Linked DNA regions of Homo sapiens. The protein of the gene in region 2 purifies or fractionates together with the protein of the main gene of each other region. This does not show direct contact. Each region holds a gene or a part of one and is shown on either strand. Other genes may lie near its edges.

Region 1 (7,036 bases), on a different chromosome or scaffold from region 2:
TCACATGTCCATACCTAGTTTTCTTTTTTTCTAAATAATAAGTGATCCTCCCACTTCAGCCTCCTGAGTAGCTAGGACTACAGGTGCACACCACCATACCCAACTAATTTTTTGTTTTTAAATTTTGTGTAGAGTCTCACACTCCTGGTCTCAAGCAATCCTCCTGCCTCAGCTTCCCAAGGTATTGAGATTACAGGAGTAAGCTACCTAAAGCTGTTTTTTAAAGCCATAACTTAAAAAAAAAAAATCAAACTACAGCCTGCAGCAATCACTGATGGTCATTCAGGTCACCCATTTAACAAGATCCCACTGAATTTTCCACCTTACATCATAAGTTTCTGATCATCAGCAACAGATCCAAACAATGACTCGTGCAGCAGGTGCCAGGCCACATCCTCTACAACAGCTGAGTGGCCAGTAAAGATGGCTTTAGCATCCACAATTTTGCCTTCTTTTGGTCCTGCGTTTATATCCCACAGACAAACAGTCTAAGAGAGAAGGAGAGAAAAAAAAAAGAACAAGGGCTATAAGAGACTGATTTTTTTTTTTTTCCCTCGAGACAGTGTCTCAGTCTGTCACCCAGGCTGGTGCGATCTCGGCTCACTGCAGCCTCCGCCTCCAGGGCTCAAGCGATTCTCCTGCCTCAGCCTCCTGAGCTGGGATTACAGGTGCAAGCCACCATGCCTGGCTCATTTTTTTTGTATTTTTAGTAGAGACGGGGGTCTCACCATATTGGCCAGGCTGGTCTTGAACTCCTGGCCTCAAGTGATCCGCCTGCCTTGGCCTCCCAAAGTGCTGGGACTACAGGTGTGAGCCACTGTGCCCGGTCAAGAGATTGAATTTAAATGCTAACATCTTATTTAAAATAATTTCATTACAAACAAAACTATTCAACTATATAAGTTTGAGGTAAACACAAGAGAGAAAATATAAGCAAACAGAAGAGTATGTGGCTGCAGCCTCCATGTGAGGTGCAGAGGAAAAGGACACTCCACTGTAATGAGGGGGAGGGGAGACTGAGTACAGTGGCAGGCAAGGACACTGATGCTGGAATTTCTACCTACATACATTCAGACATTCAAGTACCCCAAATTCACTTAGACAACACAACAAATCACCAAGAGCCCGGCGCTCAGCATCTACTGAACACAAATGCACATCCTAAAAGTTTACACTGGGATGGGAAGACTGGGAATTAAAATTAAACTCTGCCTCTCACATAGCAAAAGCCTCATGGACAAGTCTTTCACTTCATGGCAGAAACCACCACAGACATCAGGAGATGGGACAGGTAAACGACACTGGGCCAGAAACCTCTACTAGTCTACTCTGAGAGGTCAAGGCCTGGCGCCCACAGACAGATCCCCAATGATGTGCTCCTTGAAACGTCAGCAGAGCCCAAGCAGAGGCCATGGGGCCTCTGCTTGGGCCTCAAAGGTCACAGCAGCCCACAAATAAGGAGGCCTCATGATGTGGGCCTTGACATCCTATCACAGAAAGAGTTAAGAGGAAAGTTTTAATGAAAAAATATTGCAAGGTATAGGGCAACGATTCTCATTCAATAGTTAATAAGAAATAATACCATGAAGGTATATTAGCACTAATTATAGTTCCACCGACACTGGTATGGGTTTTTTTTTTTTTTTTAATTCATAGCACGTGATCATGAAAGGGCTTCATCTGTTTTTATTAAATCACCTTTTTTTTTTTTTTGAGACGGAGTCTCACTCTCTTGCCTAGGCTGGAATGCAAGGGCACAATTTTGGCGCACTACAACCTCCGCCTCCCGGGTTCAAGCAATTCTCCTCCCTCAGCCTCCCGAGTAGATGGGATTACAGGTGTATGCCACCAAGCCCAGCTAATTTTTTTGTATTTTTAGTAGAGACGGAGTTTCACCACGTTGGCCAGGCTGGTCTTGTACTCCTGACTTCAGGTGACCCACCCACCTTGGCCTCCCAAAGTGCTGGGATTCCAGGCGTGAGCCACTGTGCCCAGCCACATGAAGGACTTTCTGTAACAAAGCTATTTCCCAGTAATGGCTATTTTCCCAGTAACAAAATTTTTTTTTACACAATACATATGCCCTCAGTCTCTGTTGTTACTTACACATGAAGACACTCAATGTGTGTGAACTGAAGAGAAAGGAACATGTGGTGCTCCTGCCATTCACACTGACTCAGAAGGACCTGGCAAGATTAGCATGATGCTTGGCATGTGGGTAGCCCCTGGTAAATGTCAGCTATTATTATTACTACCAATTCCCAGCCTGGTCTCTTCAAAAGGTACTAGTAATTGGGTTACTGAGTACAATCCACTTATCCACTTTCCCTACTTGGGAAACCGTCTCATACACACTTTGAGGGAAGCATCCTTTCAGAGAGCCTATAATCCCAGCTCTTTGGGAGGCCAAGGAAGGTGGATCACTTGAGCCCGGGAGTTCAAGACCAGTTTGGGCAATACGGCAAAACTCCATCTCTACAAAGAATACAAAAATTTGCTGGGTGTGGTGGTGGGCGCCTGTAGTCCCACCTACTTGACAGGCTGAGGTAGAGAACCACTAGAGCTGGAAAGGTGGAGGGTGCAGTGAGCCGAGACTGAGCCACTGCACTTCAGCCTGGGTGACAGAGCAAGACCTTGTCTCAAAAAAAAAAAAAAAAAAAAAAAAAAAGTGAAAAGACAACAGAATGGGAGAAAATTTTTGAAAATCATAGGGACTTATACCTAGAATACATAAGAAACTCTTATAACTTGACAATAAAAAGACAAAATTAAAATATGGACAAAGAATTTGAATACCTATTTCTCTAAAGGAGATATGCAAATGGCCAGTAAGTACAAGAAAAGATGCTCATCATCATTAGTCATCAGGGAAATGCAAATTAAAACCACAATGAGCTGGGCGTAGTGACTCATGCCTGTAATCCCAGCACTTTGGGAGGCCAAGGCAGGAGGATTGCTTGAGCCCAGGAGCTCAAGACCAGCATGGCCAACATGGTGAAACCCTGTCTCTACTAAAAGTACGAAAATTAGCTGGGTTTCATGGTGCATGGCTGTAATCTCAGCTACTTGGGAGGCTAAGGCAGGAGAATCGCTTGGACCTGAGAGGTGGAGGTTGCAGTGAGCTGAGATCGTGCCACTATACTCCAGCCTGGGTGACAGAGACAGACTCCGTCTCAAAAAACAAACAAAACAACAACAACAACAACAACAACAAAAACCAACTCCCCACCCCCAAGCCAAAAACAAACAAAAAAAAACCCAGGAAATACCACTTTATGCACACTAGGATAGCTATAATAAAAAAGACAAGCATTAGTGAGGATGTAGAGAAACTGGAACATTTGTACATTGCTTGTGGAAATGTAAAATGGAAAGCCACTTTGGAAAACAGTTTGGTAATTCTTCAAAAAATTAAACAGAGATACCATATGATCCAATAATTCCACTCCTAGGTATATATCCAAGAGAAATAAAAACATACATCTACACAAAAACTTGTAAACAAATGCTTGTAACATAATTCAAAATAGCCCCAAAGTAGAAAGAACTCAAATGGTTCATCAACTGACAAATAAGCTAACTGTGGTATATCCATACAGTGGAATATTGTTCATCCATAAAAAGGAATGGAACATAAGTAATGTTACTTGAAAACATTATGCTAAGTGAAAGAAGCCAAACAGAAAAGGCCATATATGAGATTCCATTTACATGAAATACCAAGAACAGATAACTCTATAGAGACAGAAAATAAATTAGTGCTTACCAGGAGCTGGGGGAAGGCAGGGAATGAGTGGGGAGTCACTGCTTAATGGGTATGGAATTTCTCTTTCAGAGAGCGAATGAAAACATTCTAGAATTAGTGGCAATAGTTGTGCACCTTTGTGAATATACTAAAACCCACTGAACTGTACACTTAAAAAATACTTTATATTAATCAGGTCCCACAAACACTCTACAGTTTCCATTTTAAGGGCCTGGAGGGTCCTCTTTTAAATAATGGGAGGCCTTTTGCCTATGCTCCCTCCATTCTAAGGCTACTTCAAAAGAGCTCTGTGGAATCCGAAGACTCATACAGGGCAGTATGAAAACCATCTCTCTAAAGTCCTGGGGGAATGTTACCACAATAATCAGCAGTATTATCTTAGAAAACCTTTCATCTATATAGTACTCCTTCAGCACAGCTGTGACACGTCAGCTCTCACTATATGAACAAATTACAAAGAATACGTTTCTCACATGGTCATCAGATGCACTTAGGAGATGTCCACTCAAATTTGAATTCCAGGAGAGACCATAGCCTTCCTTCTGGTGACCTCTTAATCTGAGATCAGGATTACATTCTCCACTTGGGTCTAAGAAAAGATGAAAAACATTAAGTTATTCTCTGTTTATCAGAACTGGTGAGAATAAATTCTCACTCCTTCATTGAGTGAACCATTACAGCAACTGCACACGAACGAGATCTGGTCTTTAATACCCAATGCAAATTGAGCCTCATGACCATTAGATGATTGGTTTCTTTGGAAAACCTAATACTATCCCCAACACAAAAATATTAAAAACTATAGCTATCCTACAAATTTGGGCAGTGGTGACCGTATCCCCGCAACCCCCCAATTTTTTAGAAATATTTCTAACACAACAGGTCTGGTTGCTCAGTCCTTGCATGCCTCTAGGGTAGCCTGCAACCATAAATGACCCTTGGCCAACCCCTGGGAATGTGACCCTCAGAAAGTTCTTCACGTCACTGACTGATAAAGTTTTGTAAGCCCAGAGCAGTGGGGTATGCCATAGGGACCTGTCAAGACTTGTAGGATTGTTTAGCAAGATTCACAATGTATTTGGCTTCACTATTGGGGTCCTCAATTTTGTTACCATGGCTGGTCATAGAACAGGATGTGCCCACGCCAACAGACCTCCACAAAAATCCCAGATTCTGAAACTCAAATGGGCTGCCCTGGGTAGAGACATTTAGCACATGTTCCTATGGTTTGCTGCTAGAGACAAAACATGTCCCACGTGGCCCTGGATGGGAAGGACTCAGACGCCTGTAGCTAACCCCTCTGGACTTCCCCTGATGTGTATCTTTTTCTTCCTACTCTTGCTCTGGATTCTTTGCTGTAATAAACTTTAGCTGTTAGTATAAGCTGCTTTTAGGTAGTTCTGGCAAATCCCTGAACTTGAGGATGGTTATGGGACCCCCAAAGCAATTTTTAAACCTTTAAATATTATAAAGTATGCTACTTTGACCTTAAAAACATTACCAGTTTGAATCAAGAAAACTGCTCAAGTAATGACCTAACTCTATTATTACATACCTGGTTTAGCAGGGTGTTTTGTATAGTCAAAAACCAACACATCAGAAGATGGTGTTTTTGTAGCAATGATGTGAGGATTCTGCGGCATGTAACGAGCACGGTTTACTTCTCCTTCGTGATTGATTTTAATTTCACATTCAATTTTTCCTGTTACAGAACCAAAGCCACCAAATTCTAATGTGAGGAGAAAGAAACACACACACACACACTCAGGATTAAAATTCACAAATCACTTAGTTCAATCAACCTAACAGATTTTGACCTGGCAGAATACAACACAAACTGACAAGACAAAGACAGAAACATGCATAGAGAAAACCCAAAAATGTGGGTTCATTTGCCACATCAATTTATTCTTAAAGCCCATTTGCACTGGAAAATATTGGTAGCTGCCTTATGCAACTTAATTCAGTTCCACCTTGGATCTAAAACAACTGTCCTCTTTCAGTTATGAAGATGATATAGTTATTCACTGAAATTTCAAGTAACCATATAATAAGCAGACCAATAGCTTTTTAGTTCAAATACAACTCACTGTAAGTACTGCACTGAATTAGCATCTTATTTTAGGATTCATCAAAACAGGAAAGGTTTTAACCCTCCACAGTATGAACACCCTTTGAGTCTGAAGTCAGAAGCATCCTCAAATCAATCAGAAACCCACGCTAACCCCTACCTGTCCCTAAACACACATACATTGGCCCTGCCAGCATACTTGGTTTAACTGCTAGTGCAGTGCCAAGGTTAACCTCTCCGCCCATCTGGTGTGTGAATAAGACTATAGTATTAAATAATCATGAAAAAGGCCTTGTAAAGTAACAAAGTCATATAAAAAGTACGGTAACTTCCAAGAAGTAGCAACATGTTAGCAGAAAGAATACAAGTAGAGAACATCTAAGCAAATACAGCAAACAAGAACATTCTTTTTTGTGCTCATAGATAAAAAAACCTGAATTAGTTGCTGACGCTTAAAAAGATAGGAGGGTTCACATTACAATTGTGTTATTCTTCCTGACCTATATTGCCTTTTCTTTGCACATTCCATTTTAGCTCACCCTGTGTCTCAGGTCAGGGACAACTAACACAAATGCCTACTGGAGCCAGACAGGTAAGAAGTAAAATAGACCGGGGCCTGGAGCAACCACCAAAAGGAGCAAACCATTTCTCAGTTCCAGGCAGCTCCTTCTATGTGGAATGCTTAATGAACACTCGCTTCCATGTCTTAATATCAGTATCTAGCCGTTCCTCTCTGAAGCAAACATAGCTTACTATTTCAGTGTGGTTGAAAAAACCGTATCTCAAATCCACGATTACTCCAAAGCTCCTCTACCCACTACTCTCATGTGACCACATGCAAAAGGATCCTTTTTCCTCGTAGCACCTTCTGTTCCATGGTGTCAATGGAAGAAATGTGCCTCGGCATGCTAAGACCCCTCCTGATCCAATCGTCTCCTCCCTCCTGAGACTGCTCCAAATCTGCTCCACTTTGACCTTCAACATCCCATTCCATGGACTCCAGTGGCTCTAACCCTTCTGCTACAAAGATACTCAAGTTTCCTGATTCCTTTAGCTAAAACAACCTGAAGAGCTCTCCTTTAAAAAAAAAAGGGGGGGGGGCGGGGCTTCCAAGTAGGATTTACTTTGAACACAGAGTTTTGTTTTCTCAAACTTAAAATTTTGAAAAGTCACTGTCTTAATGATAATATCCATTAAAA
Region 2 (7,036 bases):
CTCATAATCCCCAGCTTTGGAAGTGAAACAGCAGCCACCCAGAAATGCCAATGTGTACAGACAATCAAAACAACAACAACAAAACAAAAATCCAAAACCCCAATTAAAACCTGATCTCTCTAGCAAAGAACTAGGAAAAGGGCAGCCTAGCCAGACAGAAAACATTTCTGAACACTAACCTTCCTGTTCCAGCCAAACCCACGGAAAAAACTGTGGACACCTTTCCTAACCCCAGCAGAGGCTGAGGTGAAGAGCCTACATTTCCACCCTCACAAGACTTAGGAAGCACCCCAACACCTATACCAGGGTGGTGTCAGAGGAAGCCTAGCGAAGTCAGGATTTTCATTATGGCCCACTAAGTACAAGGCCACCCTCACCAGGTGGTAGCCTGAACTCTCTCCTGACATCCAGTAGTAACAAGGAGCCTCCCCCTCCCCCCAACCTCAGATGTCAATGGAGGTTGAGAGAGAAACTGGAATTCTAACACCTGGCGGTAAGTAATAGGGTGGTGAGGCCCCTCCCTCTTTCCCTGCCCTGAGGGGTGTCAAAAAAGCCAGTTAAAATAGAAGGGTTAAATAAGACCCAGAGTCTCACAACATAATCTGAAAATGTCCAGGTTTCAATAAAAAATTACATCAGTCCAAGAATCAGGAAGATCTCAAACTAAATGAAAAGGCCAACACTAAGATGACAAAGACATTAGAATTATCTGACCAAGATTTTAAAGCAGCCACGACAAAAATGCTTCAGTGAGCAATTATGAACATGTTTGAAATAAATGAAAACATAGGCTTGGCAAAGAAATAGGAAGCCTCAGTAAAAATAAGATAGAAAACTATAAGGAAAAAATAAATGGAAAATTTGTAACTGAAAAAAATACAATAAAGAAAATAAAAACCACAGTGGATGGGCTGAGCAACATGGAGGGGAGAGAGAAAACAAACAGTGAACTGGAAGAAAGAACAACAGAAATTGCCCCATATGAACGACACAGAAAACAAATGAACAGAGCAGGAGAAACCTGTGGAGCTTAGTCAAACATACATCTACATTCATGTCATTGCAGTCCTGGAGGGAGAGGAAAAAGAGAATAGAGGTGAAAAAGTACTCAAATATAGTGGCTGAAAACTTGTGAAATTTGGCGAGACATAAACCTAAGACTCAAGAAGCTAACCAAAGCCCAACAGAATAAACCCAAAGAAATCCATGCCAAAACACGTCATAATTAAGCCTCTATAAACTAAACCAAGAGAAAAATCTTGAAAGCAGCCAAAGAATAATGACATTATACCTATAAAGAGAAAACAAAAGATCCTGATTTAATAAGGAATAAAGGCAGTTCATTAGATGCAGAGCTAACCCTGATTTAATACTTTGCCTGTTTATGTGAAGATGTCAGATAAATGTACAAGCCAGAAAATAAGTTTCTTAGTTAACAGTCATTGTGCTATAAGGCTGTTGTACTGCCACGTCACAGCAAGAGCAGTATCATAAACCTCATAAACACAGGTGGGGCCTACCATACACCTTGCCCATCCCAGGACACGTTGACAGAGCAATCCTTCCATTCAGATAACCAATCAAGTACTTATTAAATATTTATAAGGCATCAAATCCTATGTTACATGCTGCATGGAAAGAAACAGACTAAAGAAAATTTGGGTTTTTTTTTTTTTTTAATTATTTTTATCTTTTGGTTTTCCTTGAGACCGGATCTCACTCTGTCACCCAGGCTGAAGTGCAGTGGCATGACCACAGCTCACTGCAGTCTCAACCTCCTGAGCTCAAGCAATCCTCCCGTCTCAGTCTCCTGAGTAGCTGGGACCACAGGCACACACCACCACACTCGGCTGGTTATTTTTTTAATTTTTAGCAGAGACAAGGTCTCGTTATTTGCCCAGACTGGTCTGGAGCTCCTAGCCTCAAGCGATCCTCCCACCTCGGCCTCCCAAAGTGCTGCAATTACAGGCATGGTCACACCTAGCCAAGAAAATGTTTTTGTTTTTGTTTGTTTGTTTGTTTGTTTGTTTAAAACAGAGTCTCACTCTGTCGCCCAGGCTGGAGTGCAGTGGCTGGATCTCAGCTCACTGCAGCCTCCAACCTCTTGGATTTTCATGCCTCAGCCTCTCGAGTAGCTACAACTACAGGTGTGCACTACCACACCCAACTAATTTTTTTATATTTTTAGTAGACAGGATTTCGCCATGTTTGCCAGGCTGGTCTTGAACTCCTGGCCTCCCAAAGTGCTGGGATTACAGGTGTGAGCCACCACACCCAGTCAAGAAAACGTTTTCTGAATAGAGCTCACAAATATTTTATATTTACAAATATTTACATAAAACAGCATAAAATTAGGTATCTAAAAGAAAGCCCCGTTAGTATTTTTAATATGTTAACTTAGCAAACAAAATCCTCAAGAGTAGCAGGTTTTAAAAAAATGAGTCTAGTGGGATGTTTAAGACTTCCTAAATAATTAACATCAACAGACACCTCTATGCTGCTGAGGAAAACTCACTCTCCTAGGAAGTGCTTAATATCTTTAAACTATTTGAAATTTCAATTATCTGACCATTTTTGTTTTGTTTTGTTTTTGTTTTCGGAGACGGAGTTTTGCTCTTGTTGCCCAGGCTGGAGTGCAATAGCACAATCTCGGCTCACCACAACCTCTGCCTCCCAGGTTCAAGCAATTTTCTTGCCTCTGCCTCCCAAGTAGCTGGGATTACAGGCATGCACCACCACGCCCAGCTAATATTGTATTTTTAGTAGACACGGGGTTTCTCCATGTTGGTCAGGCTGGTCTCAAACTCCCAACCTCAGGTGATCCACCTGCCTCGGCCTCCCAAAGTGCTGGGATTAGAGGTGTAAGCCTCCATGCCCAGCCCAAACTGCAATTTTAAGTCTTAAAAATTACGTAGGATTTAGAAGGCACCAAGGAGTGATTAGATGGCATCAAGTCGGTAGGGACAATGGGCAAAGTCAATGAGCAAAGCTGTGGAAGCCAAAAACACTCCAGGAACTGACTCAGCTCAAACAAAAATAGGACCTTCAAACACTTTCTAGGAATTCTCAACCATATTTTATAGTAAGCAGAAATCACTGCAGATTTTGAAAAGGATGACACAAAAAGAATAGCTAACATTTATAGACGAATTTATTTTGTTTTACAAAGCCATTTTTTACTTGATTATCCCCAGTTCTCTGATTAGAAAATTATGGTTAAACGTCAAGTGACTCCAGAGTTACACATTTGCTAGTGACAAGAGCTGATATTCAAATCCAGATCTGTAACTCTAGGTCCAATGCCTTTTCAGTACACCACAAAATGTCTTGAAAAGGGAATACAGGGCTGGGCACGGTGGCTCACGCCTGAAATCCCAGGACTTTGGGAGGCCAAGGAGGGCAGATCACCTGAGGTCAGGAGTTCAAGACCAGCCTGGCCAACATGGCGAAACTCTGTCTCTACTAAAAATACAAAAATTAGCTGGGTGTGGTGGCATGCACCTGTAATCCCAGCTACTCGGGAGGCTGAGGCAGGAGAATCGCTTGAACCCAGTAGGGGGAGGTTGCAGTGAGCTGAGATCCGTGCCACTGCACTGCACTCCAGCCTGGTTGACAGAGCAAGTTTGACTCCATCTCAGAAAAAAAAAAAAAGAAAGAAAGAAGAGAATACAGGCCTGGTATGTGCAGGATACACAGAAGCAAACACATAACCAGAAGCACAGACCATTTAGTGGGTGATATATAAAAATTCACATGTTTCCCAACTGCTTCAATGCACAAAGGTGCCAGCAATTTATACTGTACCTGGTGAACACCCTGTTTCAGTCTGAGCCTCCACAATCTACACACCTTATTATCAAAGGAATTTATTTTCAGTCTCTAACTACTACACAGCACAGTTTCATAATAAAAATCTAAAATTACACTGAATATTCCCTTAAGTAAGACAAAAGTGAGATATCACTTTCTCTATAATTAAGGGAAAGGGCTAAGAATATACATATGAATAATCAGTTCCTCGGCCTTCAAGTGATAAAAGAAAATTAATGTTTCCCAAATGTTCATTAAAACATCTAGTGAGGACTGGGTGTGATGGTTCACACTTGTAATCCCAGCACTTTTGGGAAGCCGAGGTGGGTGGATTGCTTGAGCTCAGTTTGAGACCAGCGTGGGCAACATGGCAAAACCCAAACTCTACTAAAAATACAAAAATTAGCCAGGCATGGTGGTGCATGTCTGTAGTCCCAGCTACTCAGGAGGCTGAGGCACAAGAATTGCTTGTACCCCAGAGGCAGAGGCTGCAGTGACCCAAGATCACACCACTGTACTCCAGCCTGGGTGACAGAGCGAGACCCTGTTTCAAAAAAAAAAAAGAAATAAAAGAAAATATCTAGTGAGAATGGAAGGTAGAGTTAAATCTTTAGGGAGATGGGGGGTTGAGAGCTGGTTAGGAAAGGTAAGTGTATAATTAAAATACATATACAAATTTATATTTCCTAAATATTTTACATCTCTACCACTTATTAAGTGGCCCAGATCAAGTTTAAATCACCTCTTTGTGCCTCCTATTCTGAGCTCTAAGATGGAAATAACTGAGATTACATATGTAAAGTGCTTAGTATACCAAAATGCTCAAAAAATGTTGAGTTCTCCTGCACTCCTCACTTTACCGTCACTAAACTTAGATGTCTTTTTCCATTATTCTAAAACAAGCATGATAACCATGTCTTGATTGATAATGTTCTCTCTAACAGGGCCCTATAGATTTTTTAAAAGTACTGAGAGCTCCAATAGAGATCCACAACCCCTAGCCGCAATTCTGAGAAAGCTCTGGAAACAGAAAGTATATTCCTAACCTATTTGGCCACAAAATCTGGCATGACCTAAACTATGACTATAAGCAGACAAACCTGACTAGCCTATGTACCATCTATTTATTCCACTAAATGTGAATACTGCTACTTTTTGCTGTAAAAATACTAATGTGTTTGGTTCAATAATGCTCCTTCAAACCCCAAGGGTAATAGAGATATTTATTAGACAATAACATTATATGCAGTGTATTTCCTTTTCAAAATCTAAAATCTCAATTCCAAAATACAGATGTGCCATTACAGCAACCCCCCAAAACTTCCAATAATAGCATGTGACCTGACATTAATTAATTAGACATTCCTTTCTCATTCTATCACACAACACACACTGCCCCTTAAACCTGAAAGCAAGCCCTGAGGTTGGCTGAATTTCAATATGTGCGTTATGATTTCTAAAGTTACTTTCCAGAAAATCTGGACTTTGGTCTCAGATTGTCCCCTTTACGTACCTTCTTGCACATCTGCAGGACTCAATTTCCTTATGGATAAAAATCAAGTAAATGAGCTAGAAATGCACCTTCTAGAAAATTAAGATGTCAATAAAGACATCAGGGTGGTCTCAGTACAATCTGAAGTGGTTAGCTAGTAGAAATACTCTCTTGAGACATCAAAATCAGAAAAAGTGCCAACATTTCACAGAAATAAGATAACATCTCTACCAAGTCAACGTTGCCTTCCAGTGCTCTTTATAAAAAGCAATAAAGGAAAAAATGATCCACACATGCCATACACCACCCCCAGCCAAAAATAACAAAACAATTATTAAGTACTAATGTTGTAATATCAAACTTACTATGACGTTTAAATTCCTTCTGCAGTTTACTGATCTGGTTGCTTTTTATCCTGTTCCCAGATAGAGTTTTCACTTTCTTTGGTTTCAATGTAGTCTTTAGACTGGGTCCAGCCCTTGCATCTACCACCTGGAAGAAAATACTGAATATTTAATAATATTTTTAAAATGACACCAGTGTATCCCTTTGGTTCAGATCCGTGCCTATTTGAGAACCACAGTTTTATACTGAAAAGAGGATGAAGCTCCATGTGCACCTTTAATCATCACATGACATAAGGGAATAAATAATATTTATCTACTGGGGTTTTTAAAGATATTCTTTCCTGTGAAGTGGGTAATAGTGGGAGTCTATTGGAAAAAAATTTAAATAGATTTGTATATGGGATAATCATTACTGGATGACCCAGCTAGGTTAAGAATCAAACCTAAAAACAACTCCATTTCTACAGGATAATGTTTTGCAGTTTACGAAAAGCTTTCATATACTTTTTATATTTAGTACAAAGCAAAAAATAGAGCTACTTTTGTTACTCCAATTTTAGACAGAAGGAAAACAAGGCAAAGATAAATTATGCATTTTGCCTTATTTCACCAAGCGAGTAAATGGGTAAGAGGGGTGGAGAGGGGAGAAGATTGGAATCAAGGTCTTCAGGCCTATTCTTTATGCTTTTTTCACTTTACACCTTAATCTCTGAGGTGAGTTACACGACAGCAATAGCATGTTCTCCCACAGTCTAGCCCAGCCATTGATCTCGCCCCATATGGTCCTGTTTCTTAGGTATTCATTCACATTTATTAGCTGCAGATTTCTACCCCATGTAAAAAGGAAGGTTGTTATCATCTTCAAAATCATGACCTATTATAATAACATAACACTGTCATCAAAGGACAATGTAAGGCTAGTGTGAACGATAACTGTGTTATACTTTCTATACACCATCTCATCCAGTTCTCACAATAGCTCTGTAAGAGAGCTATTATCTTTGCACTTCATGAATAAATATAACCTGCCCAAAATCCACAACTAGTAAGTGGTAAAGGCAAAATTCAAATTCAAGTCTGATCTACATGTTCATTAGTACCAACCTGAGTTCAAAGGATCATGTTATCCAAAGAGATTTAAGAAAAAGAATTCATGTCTAATTAACTCTGGGAATTACTGAGTTAAGCCTAAAAACAGGTGAATGCTTACTGTGAATCTCCAGAAGGGGGATATTGGATACAGCCTTAAGGAAATGCCACACCAGGCTATTCTGTTCTAAAGATGCCAAAATGTTAGGCCATTATATCTGAACAGCAGCTAGTGTTTTTCTTTATTCTTTTCAGACTTTTCTACCCTAGGGATATATTACTTCCTAAATTAGGGGGA
Region 3 (4,115 bases), on a different chromosome or scaffold from region 2:
CTATATTCATGCCACATAAATATCTTTTCTCGAAGACAAAATTTTGAAAAACAGCTATTTAATTTTATACTCTTATTTCAACTTTCAGCATTGTGTTTATCTTTGCTGGCACATTAAGTCTTCTTTGGAAGGAGGTGGGTATATAAATTAAACCATTTGTTCTTCCTAGTACTTCATCAAGTAATAATAACAAAAAAAAGGAAATAAAAAAGAAGTTGCATTCCAAGAGAAGTTTATTTTTCAAATTTGCTAGCCCTATAAAGCACTTTAAAAAATAATGCTATTTAGATTATCTTCACTTCCAAGTCAGATTGTCCCAGAGAATGCAAATGTGCTACATTTGTTACTTCTCCTTACCCTGTTAATTTCTTGGAAGTTTAAAAAAAAAAAAAAAAAAGGATTACAAAATGAAGGACTTTACATTAAAATCTCAATACTGATCTCTTAGTCAGTTTAAAAGAAAAATCAAGTTTCACAAAATAAATACACTGAAGCAACTATAATAGTAATAACCTTTATTTAAAATAGATTTAATTTAGGAAAGCTCATTTTATATGAGTTTCCAACTAATTATTAGAGTCAGAAACAAAGAAAATAAAATCAGAGAAAATCCTCTGTAGAAAAAATACACAAAGAACATTTCTACATGTGAAAAAACAGTAAACAGTGTTAACATCCAAGTTATTAGTCTCAATTCCACGTCTCCTAGTGAACACCACTATCAACCTTGAGATCTGATTTGTTCTTGTCATTCTTCACTGAGTAGATGAAATATGTTAAGGTGTCTTTTTCATTCACTGGAATAGACCTAAAGTGGCAACCAACTATCTACAAAGAAAAGAAAAATTAAGGAAATTAAATTTTAGATATAACAGGTTTCATAAACTACGTAAAAAATACGGTTTCATCAAAAGAAAAAGTGCTATGTGATAAGGGCTATTTCCTTTAAAAATTATATTTAACAAAATATCAACAAGACAGAAAGCATTCAAGAATAAAATGTTACGAACAAGAGATAGTGTGATTTCAAAGGACCCTTTGACCCACTCAATTTAATATACATTGATTAGAAAATATATTTTCCTTTTATTTATTTTAAATTTTATAATTGGGCCAGGCGTGGTGGCTCATGCCTGTAATCCCAGCACTTTGGGAGGCAGAGGTGGGTGGATCACTTGAGCCCAGGAGTTTGAGACCAGCCTGAGCAACATGACGAAACCCCATCTCTACCAAAAAAAATACAAAAATTAGATAGGCCTGGTGGTGTACACCTGTAATCCTAGCTACTCAGAAGGCTTAGACAGGAGGATTGCTTGAACCCAGAAGGTGGAGGTTGCAGTGAGCTGAGATCATGCCACTGGACTTCAGCCTGGGCAACAGAGCAAGACTCTGTCTCAAAAAAAGATAAATAAATAAAATAAAAATAATAAATTTTATAATTAGAATCTAGAATAGGGAATAAATGATTTTACTTTTAAACTTTAAATGAGATAAAACAGACGTAAGAGATCACATGCATCATTAAACCTGCAATGGTTTAGACTCTACTGATAGAAAAAGAAGTATGAAGTTGAAAACTTTTGCTAGTAGAGAAACCAACAATAACATATAAATTGTTTGCTGCAAATTATATTCATTCATTCACACCTTGGTAGCATTCTTTGGTTAAGGTTCCTTGAAAATTTTTCTGAATAAAAATTATGAATGGAAATGAGAGGAGAAAGAGGGATGTTCAATGAAGGATGTTTACCTGCTTCCTTGCTTTTTCATTGTGCTAACATAACATGCATACTACAATTACTAATAGAAGAATAATAGACTTACCTGGGGTGCTGACATGCATATTTAGATTCCAGAAAATAAAATTTCTTAAGAAAAAAGTTCATCCACACAATAATTAAGAGACTTAAGACTTAGTCATACAACCCTGGATTCCCTTAAAACAGTGGTCCCCAACCTTTTTGGCACCAGAGATAGATTTCACGGAAGGCAATTTTTGCACAGATTGAGGGTGGCGGAGTTGGTTTTGGTATGAAATTGTTCCACCTCAGATCATCAGGCATTAGATTCTTATAACAAGCATACAATCTAGATCCCTCACATGTGCACTTCACAAGAGGGTTTGGACTCCTCTGAGAATCTAATTCTGTGGCTGATCTGACAGGAGGCGGAGCTCAGGCAGTAATGCTTGCTAGCTGGTGCTCACCTCCTGCTCTGCGGACCCGTTCCTAACAGGCCACCAACCAGTACCAGTCCATGGCCCTGGGGTTGGGGACCCCTCTCTTAAAATATATGTACTACATCTGCACATTCCTTAACTTGCTAATATCTGCATTTCTGATTAAGTAAAATATAACACTCATGGCTATCTCTTATGTATAAAAAAGAAAATAGCTCTGGAAATAATATAACTGTTCTTAGAAGGTCAGTTTATCAAAAATTACAGGTTTAATTTATACCTAAATATAACATTTAAAATAATCAGTTCTTTGGTTCTCATTTGTCCCAAAACAGGGGTGCCTTCACTCCATTAGTACCTATTGAAATATTTCATCATGGTGGGCAATAACTATATTTATGTTACATTAATGTATTGTACAACCCCAAAAGAACTTGATCTTTTAAATCAAAATTAAAGAAAAATTAATTAGATCTGTGTTGCCCAACCAAGGATAAAAAATTTTAGCTAAATAGTTAATATATTAGATTTTAACAATGTTAAAAAGCATTCTGCCAAATAAATGTAACTTCTATTCATATTTCATTTTATTCAATAGGCACATTTTAGAAAATGTTGGGTAACTACTAAATCCATGCAAAGAATATGAGAAAACTGATTTATATTTCTACACTTCTATTTTGTCTAGTAGGCCAAATTTTCTTTTTTTAGAGATGGAGTGTTGCTATGTTGCCCATGGTGACTCAAACTCCTAGGCTTAATCAATCCTCCTCAGTAGCTGCAAGTAAAAATTTTTATTTTAAATATGATTAAAATATATATATATAAATCTATAAACATCTTAATAAGATGCACAGATTTCTTGGTTCTATTATATCCTGAAAACATATGCATGCTCCGTTAACTTTTCACAACTCAGTGACTGACTAGAAGTCCTCTATCAAAGCAAACTACAAGTAAAAGCTTGGGTAAAAGAAAAGCTTTTGCCTCTTCTAGATGTGAAAAAAACATGGATGTCTCTAATAAAACAAACATCAACAAGGACAAATTTTGAAATAGTTAAGTCAGCAAATTATAAAAATACTGTTTAGGGTCTGATTTGTAGGCCTATTCCACCACTTTAAAATATAAATTCTAATAAGGACATTAAAGCTTGTTAATTAATTTTATTATGCCTCAATTAGGTGCTCAAATGTTTACTGGTTAAACGGAGTTTTAAAATTAATAGATTTCTAAAGTGAGGATTAAAAAAACTCTCATTCAACATTTTGAGGGCCAGGCACGGTGGCTCACACTGGTAATCCCAGCACTCTGGTAGGCTGAGGTGGGCAGATCACTTGAAGTCAGGAGTTTGAAACAAGTCTGGCCAACATGGTGAAACCCTATCTCTACTAAAAATATTATACAAAAATTAGCCTGGTGTGGTGGTGCACACCTGAAGTCCCAGGTACTTGGGAGGCTGAGGCTGGAGAATTGCTTGAACCTGGTAGGTAGAGGTTTCAATGAGCCAAGATCATGCCACTGCACTCCAGCCTGGGTGACAGAGTGAGATTCTGTCTCAAAAAACAATCAACACATTTTGAAAGCCAGTATCAGAAGGTGCTGTACACAATCTACTAAGCAGTCATTACAAAAAGGAATTTCCTAAGTGGCAGACAAACATTTCTACACAACTAGATTCTTCCACAACAGATTTTTTAACTTTGTTCTTTCTAATTAAAATGTACTGTTACATACACTACATTAAAACTTCCATTAGCACTTAATAACCTCTCGGTTGTGCAGATAGTTCAAATAGTTTAAAACTCATATATACCTCAACAAGTTGTGCTTTATTAAGTCCTGGTCTGGTTGGTAGCTTGAAGTGTCTTTTGTATCTCCTAAGTGTATTTACTTGTAATTGGTATAAATCAACCTAGAAAAAATTAACATGTAT
Region 4 (7,036 bases), on a different chromosome or scaffold from region 2:
GATTTCTGGTCCAGTCTACTCTTGTTACTCTTCACCATGTAGATGAAGTAGGCAAGGGTCTCTTTTTCATTCACAGGTATGTTCCTGAAGTGTCGACTCACAGTCTATGTGGGGGGAAAATACCAAAGTTCCTTAAACCATGCACAAATCACACCGCAAATTCTACATTGTACAAAGAAGCGAATGGAGTTGTTTGCATGCTGTGGCGGGAATGACAAATGCTGAAGAACTTCCTGCCATGTGCGGAACTCAGAGTGCCCTTTGCCCTTCCTCCCCAGGGATGTAGGTGGTTTAATTTCCAGGATCCAAAAGTGGCTTTTTAACCTACAACTCTTCCAAGGTGCAGTTCTATTTCAGTGGCAGCCAACCACCTGTCATGGCATGATTTCACAGTCATACTCATGGAGGAGAGACTGGGACTGCTCTGGTTGGCCAGCTGCTACCAAACCTCTCAGGCCTTGAAAGTGGGAAGAAATGTGTCTTTAAAAAATTGTGGGGCAGGCGTGGTGGCTCACACCTATAATCCCAATGCTTTGGGAGGTTAAGGTGGGAGGATTAGTTGAGGCCAGGAGTTCGAGACCAGCCTAGGCAACACAGTGGAGAACTCATCTCTACCAAAAAATTAGCCAGGTGTCGTAGCATGCACCTGTGGTCCCAGCTACTCAGGAGGCTGAGGTGGGAGGATCACTTGAGCCCAGGAGGTTGAAGCTGCAGTGAGCTGTGACTGCACCCCAGCCTAGGAGACAGAGCAAGACCTTGTCTCAAAAACAAATAAAAATTGGGTTAGGCTGGGGATGGTGGCTCACACCTGTAATCCTAGCACTTTGGGAGGCCAAGGCAGGCAGATCACCTGAAGTCAGGAGTCCGAGACCAGCCTGGCCAACATGGTGAAACCCAGCCTCTACTAAAAATACAAAGATTAGCCGGGTGTGGTGACAGGCACCTGTAATCCCAGCCACTCGGGAAACATGGAGAAGAATCACTTGAACCCGGGAGGTGGAGGCTGTGGTGAGCTGAGATCATAGCAATGCACTCCAGCCTGGGAGATAGAGCAAGACTCTGTCTTTAAAAAAAAAAAAAAATTGTGTTAAATGAACAGCCAATTGAACAAATTGAACAGAGGCATCTGAACCCCAAAATTCTTCTAAGTAGTGCATAACTGCCTCCTGAAAGACATATCAGGTTTGAAGGAAAATGCATCATTTACTAATGCTCCTAATACTTCATTCCATAAGTAATGAGAATGCAGGTCTCCTCTTGCCCCACCTCATTCTTTCCCTTCCACCAGGGAGAACACTGGCAAATGGGTGATGTTATTTTAAAGTAGGAGAGGCTTCTGACCTCCTGTGTGTCATCTGGACACTGGTGAAGGAGTTGTTTAAGAAAAAGTGACGGTCGAGCAAGAAACCTCTAAAGGAAAAACCAAAAATGAAACAGGCTGGAAGCCTTTCAGGAAATCTCAATGGATCAAGGTGGCTGAAACAGATAAAAAAAGACAGAGAACTAGACATAAAGAGTGGTTATCTCTGGATGATAGAATTATATTTTTCTTTTCTCCATTTTCCAACTTTTCTGTAATAGGCAGAAAAATATATTAAGAAAAGAGGGATTAGAAAATACCTGCAGAAATGACAAAGACAGAATTATCAAGCCAGGCAGTTCATGTATTTTAAAAATGGCCAGTGGAGCATTTCCCCGTAATCCAAACTGTGTTAATAACTCAGGGCAGGAGAAAACTTTCTTGGGTGCCATTCATTAAAATACTGTCATTACCAACACCAGAGTAGGAGAAATCAAGGAAAAAAAAATAGCTCCTGTAGAACATCAAGGTTTTGAAATGATTAATCTGACACACAAAATGATCATATCTAAAAAGCATTTTGCTAAGCCAGGCACAGTGGCTCACGCCTGTAATCTCAGCACTTTGGGAGGCTGAGGTGGAAGGATGGCTTGAGCCAAAGAGAATCACTTGAGCAACATAGTGAGGCTGCATCTCTATAAAAATAAAATTAGCTGTGCATAGGGGTGTGCACCTGTGGTCCTAGCTACTCTGGAGGCTGAGGTGGGAAGGATCACTTGAAGCTGGGAGGTTGGGGCTGCAGTCAGCCCAGACTGAGCCACTGCACTCTAGCCTGGGTGATAAAGCAAAATCTTGTCTCCAAAAAAACAAAAAGAGGAATCTTCCAAAAAAGATTCAAACAAATGAACACTCAGGACTTAGAATCTGGAGTCATGAGATCCCAGGCTCAATTCTGCTATCAACTTGCTGTGTGATTTTAAGCAAATCCTTTCCTCTTTCTGTGCCATGGTTTCTTTTCTGGAACTGAGGCCTTTGCAGGTCTAAAGCTGTGGGGTTCTAAATTGCCAAAGAGGAATACAGAGTTGCTTCCAGAACTCTGGAGGAAATTACAATTAGCAGACACACAAGGTAAGGGAGAATCAGGGTAACCATCAGAAGCAGCACAATGCTGGCTCTCTTTAGAGGGCAATTTTGTCTACCTACTTCTGCTAACTGGGCCTTATTGAAGCCTGGTCTGGTCTGCAACTTGTAGTGTCGTTTATAACGTCGTAGGGTGTTCACCTGCAGCTGGAACAGATCAACCTAGGGAGAAGAGGAGAAAAATGTTATCCATCACCTGACCACCCAGGACTCACCAAGAGCCCACTATGTGCCTAGCACTACACTAAGGTAGGGGTGAGGATGGGGAGGGCTTCAAAAGAGGTCTTAGAAATGGTCTATTGAGGACTAGTAACTGGCTAGGAGGGCAAAAATAACAGTAGAAAAACAGTTCTGGCTGGGGTGGGCTGATCTCACAAAACTGGTGGAAAAGGTAAAGCTTAAGCTAAGGAGGAGCAGGGTCTGATAAAGCACTGAGAAACGGTAGGGAATAGGGGAAAAGATCACAGCACAGAGAGCTGGGAGAGGCACAGATGGGCAAGGGGGTCACAGGCAACTGTGATGAATTTAAAAGGTGAGAATGGATGGTAGCACATCCAGAAAAACAGAAGGAGCTATCACAGAGGGTGGAGGGCGATGGCGCAGGATGGGTCTGGTGGTGGTTGTTGGGAAGACTGATGGGGGGATACGGAGGGAGATGCTATAGCAACAATCAGAATGAGATGAAGAGGCTGAGCTTTGGAGGGGCAGTGATGCTAGAAGGGACACCAAAGATGGAGAGCAAAGGCAAAAACCAGAGACATCCTGGAGGATGATAGGCCAGAACGAGGCAGCGACCGGATAGAGGAGCACAAAGGAGGGCTGTTATCCTCAAATAGCTCTTTGCTAGGCCCAGCCTTCTGGTATTAGAATCCTTAACCTCCCTCCAGAGAAAGTTCAAAAGTTACTGTAGTGAATGTGCAATCCAGCAGGTTAGGGCTGGGGTCTTTGCAGATGACTGGATAACAGAGGGGAAGGGACCCCCCCTTTTTGTTTCTAACAAAGGAAGAGAGGAAAGCTGCATAGTCATGAAAAATTGAAGGCCCATAAAGTTGGGCTGCCTTTACCTGCCTCTAAAAGAGCTGTTCTTGCTTCAGGCAGGTGGAGAGCACTTAAAAACAAAATGAATGATCAATATGAGGGGCCAAAGTCCTTCATTCTTTTTCAAAACATTCCTCAAAACCTTTTTTTTTTTTTTTTTGGTGAAAACCACTTAGAAATCGAATACGTCCATTTCTTTGTAAAATAACAATAACGTTAAAGGCAAAAGCAAGATTCTGTAAACCAACATTGGAAAAGGGGACACAGGGAGGGGCAGAGGGAAAGGGCCAGATTTTCAACGGTTTCCTCCACATCTGCAGACAAAGGCCCGCCTACTCTTTCTATTCCTACACAGTCATTTTCACTCTGAGTGCTAACAGGCGGTTGCCTTATGAAATATTCATGTGTCAAATATTCAATGTACACTATAAACGGTTCTTCTCTTGCTGAGTCTTGAGTGAAAACAATTTAGTAGAAAGAAAATCCAATATTCCTTCCTGAAGCCTCACTTAATAGACACGGGCACCTGAAGGGAAGGCAGCCTTCCAGTTTGAGAAGCCTAGGTCTCATGGTCTAGCGCAGTGGTTCTCAACACAGGACGATTTTGTCTTGTAAAGGAGGTGTGGCAATGTCTGGAGACACGTTTTGATTGTCATGACTCAGGGTGGTGATGGGTAGAATCTCACGAGGGGATGCTGCTGAGGCATGCTGTTAAATATCCTACAATGCAGAGGACAGTCCCCACAACAAAAATTAGCTGACCCCAAATGTCAACAGTGCTAGAGTTGAGAAAACCGGGTCCAGTTTAGTCAACTTTGAAATGGATCCTTGGGAACAGCCTGGACTAGATGTCAAGAAATCAGTGAGAGAAAATCAGAGCTGGTATGAACTGATGACTTACACCTTCATTTTTTGGGGAAAAGACTTCTCCCAAACCATTATACACTCTCTAAAGGCATAAACAAGGTTTAAAAAAAAGTGACACTGTGGTTGTATTTACGCATTCGTCAGGGGCGTCTTGCAGAAAAGCAGTGTGGTCTACTGGAAAGGGCCCTAGACTAGAGCCTCCAAACTATATACATGACCTCGGCTCTCTGTGCCTGTCTGTAAAATGATGGGGCAGTCTGACCAGTGGGTGTCCAAGCTTTTAGCTCTCAGATTCCATATTACTATAATTCACTTTTCAAATAATCCACAGCAAAACAAAAGGACTAAAATTACTTCTTAACACAAAAAGCAGACCAGGCCAGAGGTGAGAATCAGATTAGAATCCATTCTTCCAGCTTCCGCAACTGGTTTCTTTGACCTTTACCTCAGGAATGTCAGTGTCGTGCTCGGGAGAATCTCCGCCATCGTCACTTGTCTTCCTCTTCCTTTTATTTCGGACACTCTGGATGAAATTTTTGTGAAAATCACAGATATATAGGTGCCTTACCTGATGGAGACAAAAATCAAAGTCAGAGTTGGCCAATTCCTTGGAGACAGCAATAGGTATCTGTCGAATTGCGGGGCTTCCTTCCATTGCAGGGCATTGGAGAGATAGATGGAAGACAAGATGTAGGCCATCATTCCCAGAAGCTCACTACTGAGTTGCAGAACACAAAGAGAATGCTAACATCACACTTGGCAGCGTATCATACACCAAACTTCCAGTGAATGGTGAAGACAGTAAATGGTACAGATTCAGCAAAGGAAGAGATCCCTGCAACAGAGATGCTCAGGGTGAAGGGCCCTGACTAAAAGGGAGGACTTTAGGCAGACAGGAAGCATTCCAGATGGGTAGGAGTGCCAAGACTTTAGAGTTTCCAATGGAGGATGACAGAAAGAGTGAGGAGGCCCAGGGTACAGTGTCAGTTGGGTGATGATGGCTGCCCATGTAGGAGCATAATGAAAAAGTGAGGCATCAGGGGGGTGGGCATGAGAACAGCTTAGACTTTCCTTCCGACAAGACAGAGTCCCTCAAGGAAGCAGGAAGTGATGTGACATTTTTAGAAGACCTGTAGGAGTCATAAACTTATAGTCGACTGGAATGTACTGTCCTGGGGAGGAGGAAAGCAGGACACAAGGGACTGTTGCAACGGTATTTGGGACACTCTATTTTTACAATTACAATAGCTACTATTGTAGGATAATAACTCTTTGAAAAACTTTGTTTCTATGTGTCAATTTATAATTCTTGCATTATCTCACATCTGATCCACAAAGAAAAGTGGAAAAAGATGTGGAAGTTCTTACAAGGTAGAACCACATACAAGAAGGTGGATACTACAGATTTTCTAATACAGGCTGGAGGCACACTGGTAAGTGAAGGTGGCAGCAACAGCTAAGACATGAAGAATCCTCCAAGGCTGGCTGGAGGAACCACTGAAAAACTTTACAGAAACTGAATGCCCAGCAAATGACTTGGGGTTGTTGATACTGAAACAGCTGTTGCACAAATGTTCTGCAGAGACTTCTGAATTTGAGTTTATTCCTTAAATCCTTAAAGATAAAAGTAAGCTGGCAGGAAATCCGCATCAATTAATTCAGACCTTTTCATGGAGAAAATAATGAAAACTGTTTATTTATTTATTCAGATGAATGATCACTTTCATGTGGCTGGATTAGTGAGTCATAAGTACTTTTAAGTTTATACTGTGATGGTGTCTTGCAGACAGGAGGTACTCGAAAAATGTTGATGTACCAATATAGGAAGTCTCCTATATCTAAAAGTGGCTTAAGGCTAATGAAAGCCACCACTTAACATGGTTACAAACTGGGATAGCTTTGTCAGATTCAACTCTGTCAAAGGACTTTCAAACACAGCACATGCCACTGTCCCAAAGAATCCCACCTAGCTGATGTATATACTACTGGACATGCTTTTCTCCAGGAAGAAAGCACAACAAAGCACACTCTGCATCCCTGAGAGGAAGCTAGCCCTCCATGTTAGCTAGACTGGCGAGTCCACTCAGATCAACTGCTCCTCAAGTTCACAGTAACAAACTTCATAGGAGAACAGGGAGAATAGGTGGCTTCCTAAAGCTTTGGCTGGGAGATTTCAGATCAGGACAATAGAATAACGGAATCCTAGCTGTAAGAGAACTTAGCAATCACTAGTGCAATCCCATTGACCCCAATCCGTTTTCTAAATGGGTAAAATGAAGCCATCCAGAGTGAGGAAATGACCTGGCCAAGGTCACCCAGGCCTTCTGCCCCCCCAGTACATGTCTTTTCCTACTCCAGCATTTTCCTTTATACTATTCTCAACTTCCACTTTTCTCCAGGAAAAAAAAAGCAGAAATATGTCAACTGGAGGTATATTAGTATTTTAACAGATCACAGAACACTGCCAAAGTCTATATAAAATGAGTTAAACAGCCTGAATTGAATTTCTGGTGTTGTTATTTAAAAAGGTTCTCTGCTAGACTCTCTTACAAGATAAATAATCATTTTCTCCTTAACCATTTTCAAGTACATACTGGTTTTCAGAAATTTCAGAGCTCAGTGGCCTTTGGGAGTGGGGTTGGGGCAGGAGGGTGGTAGCAAAGGCTCTAGTTTTTTTTTTTCCTTCACTTT

The links.
Region 1: the proteins of SINHCAF (region 2) and RBBP7 purify together in Homo sapiens (affinity purification with mass spectrometry; 5 studies listed by BioGRID and IntAct, with this or other methods). This does not show direct contact.
Region 3: the proteins of SINHCAF (region 2) and SAP30 purify together in Homo sapiens (affinity purification with mass spectrometry; 5 studies listed by BioGRID and IntAct, with this or other methods). This does not show direct contact.
Region 4: the proteins of SINHCAF (region 2) and SAP30L purify together in Homo sapiens (affinity purification with mass spectrometry; 4 studies listed by BioGRID and IntAct, with this or other methods). This does not show direct contact.

What each region holds. Positions count from the first base shown.
Region 1 is NC_000023.11:16,853,355-16,860,390, forward strand, and holds part of RBBP7 (histone-binding protein RBBP7), read right to left. Parts: intron 5,496-7,036; coding exon 5,322-5,495; intron 4,356-5,321; coding exon 4,240-4,355; intron 489-4,239; coding exon 328-488; intron 1-327. UniProt on the Homo sapiens protein: Core histone-binding subunit that may target chromatin remodeling factors, histone acetyltransferases and histone deacetylases to their histone substrates in a manner that is regulated by nucleosomal DNA.
Region 2 is NC_000012.12:31,288,138-31,295,173, forward strand, and holds part of SINHCAF (SIN3-HDAC complex-associated factor), read right to left. Parts: intron 5,795-7,036; coding exon 5,668-5,794; intron 1-5,667. UniProt on the Homo sapiens protein: Subunit of the Sin3 deacetylase complex (Sin3/HDAC), this subunit is important for the repression of genes encoding components of the TGF-beta signaling pathway.
Region 3 is NC_000004.12:173,373,918-173,378,032, reverse strand, and holds the end of SAP30 (histone deacetylase complex subunit SAP30), read right to left. Parts: intron 4,095-4,115; coding exon 3,996-4,094; intron 829-3,995; coding exon 706-828; 3' UTR 501-705; downstream 1-500. UniProt on the Homo sapiens protein: Involved in the functional recruitment of the Sin3-histone deacetylase complex (HDAC) to a specific subset of N-CoR corepressor complexes. Capable of transcription repression by N-CoR.
Region 4 is NC_000005.10:154,448,968-154,456,003, reverse strand, and holds part of SAP30L (histone deacetylase complex subunit SAP30L), read right to left. Parts: intron 4,914-7,036; coding exon 4,791-4,913; intron 3,549-4,790; coding exon of another isoform or gene 3,531-3,548; exon of another isoform or gene 3,505-3,530; intron 2,603-3,504; coding exon 2,504-2,602; intron 105-2,503; coding exon 1-104.